Linked DNA regions of Homo sapiens. The protein of the gene in region 2 interacts with the protein of the main gene of each other region in a pairwise test. Each region holds a gene or a part of one and is shown on either strand. Other genes may lie near its edges.

Region 1 (3,500 bases), on a different chromosome or scaffold from region 2:
CTTGGAATGATATTTTTCTCTTTGTTAGAGCCATTTTGTTCTAATAGCTGTGATGATCCAATCAAGAAAGATGAAATGGAAGACAGTGAGATGTCAAGGATTGAATAGGACGTAGAACCAGAAGATAGAGGTTGAAGGTACCGCTTTGCCCCTGACCAGGGGTAAATTCTTCAATAACTGACTCTGTCCGGATAAGGAGGATAATAATGCTCTACCAGCTTCAGTTACCGTGTTAGGGGATCAATAATATATGCTATGTAGATTAAGCCATAGAAAAGTTAAAGCTTGAAACATTTGTTGGGCAGCTGAACCATGAAGTGAATGAAATTAATTCGCCTTCAAGTGGAAACATGAGATCCACAAGCCAGCTTTTACTTCACACTTCCACCTTGGAGTCTTGAATACCTCTCTGTCTTCCTTGCTTGCCATCTGTTCTCTTACTTTTGATGCTGTTATTGTCCAAGATGTTCTCTCTTAGAATAGCTGGTAATGATAGCACAATGCATAGATGGGCTCAGTCCACAGAAGCTACGTGAATTCTCCCAGTAACAGATGAGGAAATTGAGGCTCAGAGATGTTCAGTAGCTTGCCTAAGGTTGCATAAGCTAGTGAGTGGCAGAGCCCAGATTCAAACCAGATACACTTCAAAAGCAAGCGCTCTCAGCTACTGTGCCGGATATACCATTCATTCAGAATAGCGTGGGCTAAGCCCACTCTGTGTTGTGAGACAGAGAACATTCAGACTAAGACATGCATGACCTGTCCTGTGGGAGCCACTCTTCACCAGAGGCACTTCTGCACACACCCGCGTCTCATGCATTTTCCCTGGTCAAATTCAACCATTTGTTCTCCTTAGTGTCTTTGTTGCTGAGCTCATGTAAAAAAACACTGGAGTCTCCAGATTAGTTCTATGTGGGTTCATGCTTCCCAGATGCCATCGGACTGTGTGTTCTCCTCTTGTCCTTGGTCAGTTCCCTCTCCCATCCCTCACAGGGACTGGTCTTGACACTCTCTGGGTTTTACTGAATGTTACATGTTTATGTTGAAGAGATTGCTGATGTTAGACGTTAGGATTTATTTGGCAGTGCAAGAGTTTGTGTTTCTCTTTCTTTGAGGATCTCTATATTGTTATTAATGGTGGTGTTGAGGAAACCACGGAGCTCCTGAAGCAGCGATTTGACCACATTTTCTATACGGGAAACACTGCGGTTGGCAAAATTGTCATGGAAGCTGCTGCCAAGCATCTGACCCCTGTGACTCTTGAACTGGGAGGGAAAAGTCCATGTTATATTGATAAAGATTGTGACCTGGACATTGTTTGCAGGTGAGTCTGGCTCTCTGATTTTCTGAGGTTTTCCCAGCACAATGGAGACTTTTCCTGACAATGTTACTCTTTGTACTTGAACCCCATACCTTATGGCTCCAAGATACATTATTAAGCTTTGGTGGTTGATGTCCTCAAGAGTAACAGGAGTCTTTCACTGTCTCTTGGCGCCACTGTCAAAAATGGTGAGCTGTAAGTCCTGACATCATGTGGTTGTCCTTAGGAATTTTAAAAAAGTTATATCTGTTCTCAAGATTACAGCTAGATCTAGCAAGAAATTTTAACGTTCTTCTGGCCAGTGATCTGTGAAGTACATAATCCAAAGTATTGTGTGTGCCTAATAAAATCTTTAAATGCCCATTTGAGAGGGTATTATGCTGATATCTTAACTGAGATCCTTTGTGGGCAAAACAAGTGTTCCTCATTTTTTAACTGTGAATAACATCTTGCATCTGAAAATTAGAAAATAAGAGGTTTCAGGTTCTCTCTGCTAAATCCGGTTTAGCTACTAAGAAGTGCCAAATCATAGAACTGACTCTGTGCTCTGGGTGGTGTGGCTTTCTCTGCCCTTCAGAGATTCCAGGTCAGGGTTCCAGGTTGGCTTCCTAAGTAGAAATCCATTTGTCAAAACCAGACACCCTCAGTTAGTGAATGTTTAGGGCATGGGTTTCTGCCCATGCATAGGAAAGGTCTTCCCAAGTGGGGCAGGGCTCCACAAAGAGGAGGATGGCCTTGGAGGCTGGCTGACATCCTGCTTTATACCTGAACATCTTGCAGGCAGAGCCAAAAGCCACAACCAGGAGAGTCTGTACCGAACTCTGGTCATCCAGGACTTTCCTTTGGCTGGACTGGAAGAGGGGAAAGGACATTGGGAGGCTGTTTCTCCTCTTTTCCTGCAGCAGGCAATGGCTTCACTGTTTACCAAGTACTGTTTGCCGTGAGCTGGCCTGAGAACTTCCCTGCTATGTAAAATATTCCACCTCATTTGGAAAATACTTTCTAAGTTCCAAACAACTGATTTAGAAATGAGTTTTTAACTTTTTTATAAAAATTGCCAGATAAATATATGAATCTATTTTAGTTGCAAGACATTCAAACAACACAATGTAACAAATGAATATTTGACTGAATTACTGAATTATATAGCTGTTCTGGATGTTTTCCCCTCAGACGCATAACCTGGGGAAAATACATGAATTGTGGCCAAACCTGCATTGCACCCGACTATATTCTCTGTGAAGCATCCCTCCAAAATCAAATTGTATGGAAGATTAAGGAAACAGTGAAGGTTTGTATTAAAAACATCTGATTCCACTGATTTTAATAAGATAAGGAGTCAAATTAACTATTCGCAGGCAGCATCCCCATTTGTTTCTCCCTTCAGGAAAATTTCAAAATCATATGTGACTCAGTGAACTTATTGACTAATATGAAAATGCTATGTGTACCATAGAATATATGCTGGGAGCAAGGTTGCATTGGTGTTAAATCTACTTAAACTGTCTAGTTGATTTGTTGATGATTAGTTGTGGCATATACTTTTTTTAAAAAAGTTAAATAATCGTGTGTCCGTGGTTTTGAGGGAATGTTGCCAACCCTTTAGGTATAATCAGAGAGACTCTTTGGCATATTGGCCATTGCTGCTGAAGGTTATCAGTTTTTGTGTATGTAGAGGGCCTAGGGTGGCCAGTAGTTTGGAGGAGTGACTTAATTAAATAACTACTTACAGTATACCCTTTATATAATTAACAATCTTTCAGCGTGTTTAAAGTAAATATTTGCAGTGAGGGAACCAAGGAAGACTGCATGTAGAGTCCTAAGCCAAGACTTGAAGAAATATAGGATTTAAGTTGGTAGAAAGGAATGGGGGCTGGGCACGGTGGCTTATGCCTGTAATCCCAGCACTTTGGGGGGCCTAGGGGGGCAGATCACTTGAGGTCAGAAGTTCAAGACCAGCCTGGCCAATATGGTGAAACCCTGTCTCTACTAAAAATACAAAAAAATCAGCCGGGGATGGTGGTGCATGTCTGTAATTCCAGCTACTCAGGAGGCTAAGGCACGAGATTTGCTTGAACCCTGGCAAGAATCGCTTGAACCCGGGAGGCAAAGGTTGCAGTGAGCCAAGATCACGCCACTGCACTCCAGCCTGGGCGACAGAGCAAGACTCTGTCTTTAA
Region 2 (3,500 bases):
ACAACTCACATTATCTGTCTTTATGATATTTAAGTTTTTTTCTTAAAGTATCCATTAATGTGATCAATCACTTACAAAAGCAAATTGTCCAAGTGGCCAAAGCTATATCCCGAGGGTAAATACATCAGAGCTTCTCAACTTTAATGTGCATACAAATCTTCTGAGAGCTATTTAAGATGCAGATTCTGAATTAGTATGTCTAGGGTGATCTAAGATTCCAAATTTCTATAAAGATCACATTTGTTACCAATGCTGTTGGTTACTGGACACTGTTTTGAGAACATGGATTGAAAGACAATATTTTTGAGGTAACAATACTCCCCAAAATGATCTGCAAATTCACTGCAATCTGTATCAAAATCCAAGCTGGCATTTCTGCAAAAATTGACATGCAGATTCTAAAATTCATATGAAAATGTGAGGGATCAAGATTAGCCAAAACAATCTTGAAAAATAACAAAATTGGAGGACTCATCATTCCTGATTTCAAAACTTACTGTATATGTATATTCTGAAAATGGCAATGTAAAACTGATACATCTGTTCTATTGGACCTAAATGGCTACTTTTAAGGAAATGCTTTGTTTAGAAAAAAAAAGGCAAGACTGCAAACTGTTTTGCAATTTGGTAATATCTTACAAAATTACAAACATCAAACATTTCTAACTCCATTTCTAATATTTCTTACAGATATGCTTTCACATATGTGAAATGACAAATGTACGTGGTTATTCTCAGCAGTATTTTCTGAAGATCAAAGGAGTAAATAACCTAAATGTCCACCAGAATGGCTCAGGTTAAAAAAATTATGGTGCAGGTCCACAATCCCTTACTTACAACCCTTGGATCCAGATACATTTTGAAATCTCAAGTTTTCTAATTTTGCAAAGGTTATATGGTACATATGCCATTTGGTATATTATGTAACACATCCAATAGAGTCTAAGGCAGCTCTCACTAAAAAGAGAATGTGATTTTTGCAGCAAAACATATAAATAGTTACATTAAAGAGGAAAGAGACTCAAAATACCCTCGTTTTACTTCAGGTCAGGTTTTACTCCCCAGATTTTTAGTTCATATCAGACAGGTTTTGCTGCCAAATGAGTTTACCAAAAAACTTCTGGTCTTCAAAGATTTTTAAAATTGTAAGTTATAGCTAGGTAGCTGTGAGCCTGCACCTTTATTACTATTATTTACTCTTCTTTGTTTTATAATTAGCTGTTTAAATATCTGCCTCTGGCCAGTGGCTGGACACCACAGCAGCAGATCCAGATTTATTTCCCTCTGCATCCCAACATGCCTGACATACATAAAACATTTAATTTTTTTTTTCTGGCAGGGTACAATTGCTCATGCCTTTAATTCCAGTGCTTTGGGAAGCTGAGTTGGGAGGATTACCTGAGGTCAGGAGTTCGAGATCAGCCTGGCCCACATGGCAAAACCCTGGCTCTACTAAAAATACAAAAATTAGCCATACAAGAATACAAGTGTACACTTGTAATCCCAGCTACCTGGGAGGCTAAGTCAGGAGAATTGCTTGAACCCAGGAGTTGGAGGTTGCAGTGAGTCAAGATGGGACCACTGCACTCCAGTCAGTGTGACAGAGGAAGACTCCATCTCAAAAAAAAAAAAAAAAAAAAAAGAAAAGAAGAAAACATTTAGTTTTTTCTCTGAATTGAATAAGCATGCCTTATAAGAAGGACTACTTGTTAATATTTGACTTCTGTAAGCAAATCAGATGTAGAATGATGTGGTAGAGTTATGCCCAGTAAGCAGTCAGTACTACTTGCACGTGGTTTATGACCGTGACAAGGACCGATTTCAGCACAGGAAGATTACTATTCTGAAATGCTGCCATTATTGTCAATTATTAAAAGATGTCTTATAAATAGGGATGTCAAGGGAAAAAAAGGGGATGCCAGGCGATTTTTATTTAAAGGGTATATAATTTTCTCTTAAATTGACTCTTGTGGTCTCATTTCACTCTGCTTTCTAAAAAAAATTCAAGATCAAATGTTTAGTTAATACCAACAAATCTCCCATTTTATTCAACTCCTACAAGTATGCAAAACACAACCCTTTCAATCCTTTGTGTACATGAAGACAAAATTCTAAAAAAAAAAAAAAAATAGAAGTTGTAATCCATGCAGAGATGCTTGAACCAAAATAAAGAAAAAAGAAAACAAGCTAAATGAATTAACTGTCTTGCATTAGCTTATATGCTATAGTTAAACCACACCCTAAACACATCTATTTTTAATTTCTTTTTTTGTTTGTTTTTTTCTTTTTTTGAGACAGCATCTCACTCTGTTGCTCAGGCCGGAGTGCAGCAGAGTGATCTCGTCTCACTGCAAACTTTGCCTCCTGGGTTCAAGTGATTCTTGTGCCTCAGCCTCCCAAGTAGCTGGGATCACAGGCGTGTGCCACCATGCCTGGCTAATTTTTGTGTTTTTTGTAGAGACGGGGTTTCACCAAGTTGGCAAGTCTGGTCTTGAACTCCTGACCTCAAGGTGATCTGCCCGCTTTCGCTTCCCAAAGTGCTGGGATTACAGGCATGAGCCACCACACCTGGCCAACATATCCATTTTAAAATTAGCTAGTAAATCATTGAATTCAAAGTACTATTAACGTAATTCTCAAAGCAAAATAGAAAACATGACCTATCAAAATAAAACCATGAATTCTGCTATAATTTCGAATATACTAAGTAAACTACCTGGTGTATTTTAATAGCTTACCACTTAAGGGTTAAAATTTTAAGGGTTTATAATGTTTTGGAACTTCATATAATGTGTTTGCCTGGAATGAAAACTCCTGGGTGACAAGATTGTAAGTTCTGTAAGTTTGTGCAGAATTCTTTTGACATGTAAATTTTAAACAAAACTTTTACATGATTTCATGATTCCTACCTTCTAAACATTTAGAGATTTTCTCCAGTCGGACTGGCGCGTGAAAGTAAGAAAAAAAATCAGAGATACAAATATTAATATGTGCATAATATATCAGTTGATGAATTTAAAAATAGGTAAAATAGTCCAACCTGAGGTTATATCAGAACTCCTGCCACTCTTTTTGTCCTCGACAATTTCATAAAATGGACCTATGACACGCAGCAATTCTTCAACTTTCTCAGTCATTGGCATAGTTTCAATAATCTGTAATCAAAAGAAACAAATATTGTGAAATCACAAACTCTTAATTTGATCTCCACTAATATCAAATAATCTCCTATTTCCAATTTGTCAATAATTTTAATATTTGACATTCATAATAGACTCTCTGAAGGATCTACATTAATTACATACTTAATGTATACACACTGTGGCCGGGCTAAGTGGTGGCTCATGCCTGTAATCCCAGCACTTTGGGAGGCCAAGGCAGGAGGATGGCTTGAGCCCAGAAGTTTGAGACCAGCCTTGGCAACACAGTGAGACCCTGTCTCTTAAAAATTTTTTAAAAAACATTAACCAGGCACGGTGGTGTGTGTCTGTGGTCCCAGC

Evidence for each region.
Region 1: the proteins of ACBD5 (region 2) and ALDH3A2 come close enough for resonance energy transfer, tested with the Homo sapiens proteins (one large-scale study listed by BioGRID).

What each region holds. Positions count from the first base shown.
Region 1 is NC_000017.11:19,655,251-19,658,750, forward strand, and holds part of ALDH3A2 (aldehyde dehydrogenase family 3 member A2), read left to right. Parts: intron 1-28; exon of another isoform or gene 29-137; intron 138-1,115; coding exon 1,116-1,324; intron 1,325-2,494; coding exon 2,495-2,612; intron 2,613-3,500.
Region 2 is NC_000010.11:27,220,298-27,223,797, forward strand, and holds part of ACBD5 (acyl-CoA-binding domain-containing protein 5), read right to left. Parts: intron 3,156-3,500; coding exon 3,041-3,155; intron 2,943-3,040; coding exon of another isoform or gene 2,910-2,942; intron 1-2,909. UniProt on the Homo sapiens protein: Acyl-CoA binding protein which acts as the peroxisome receptor for pexophagy but is dispensable for aggrephagy and nonselective autophagy. Binds medium- and long-chain acyl-CoA esters.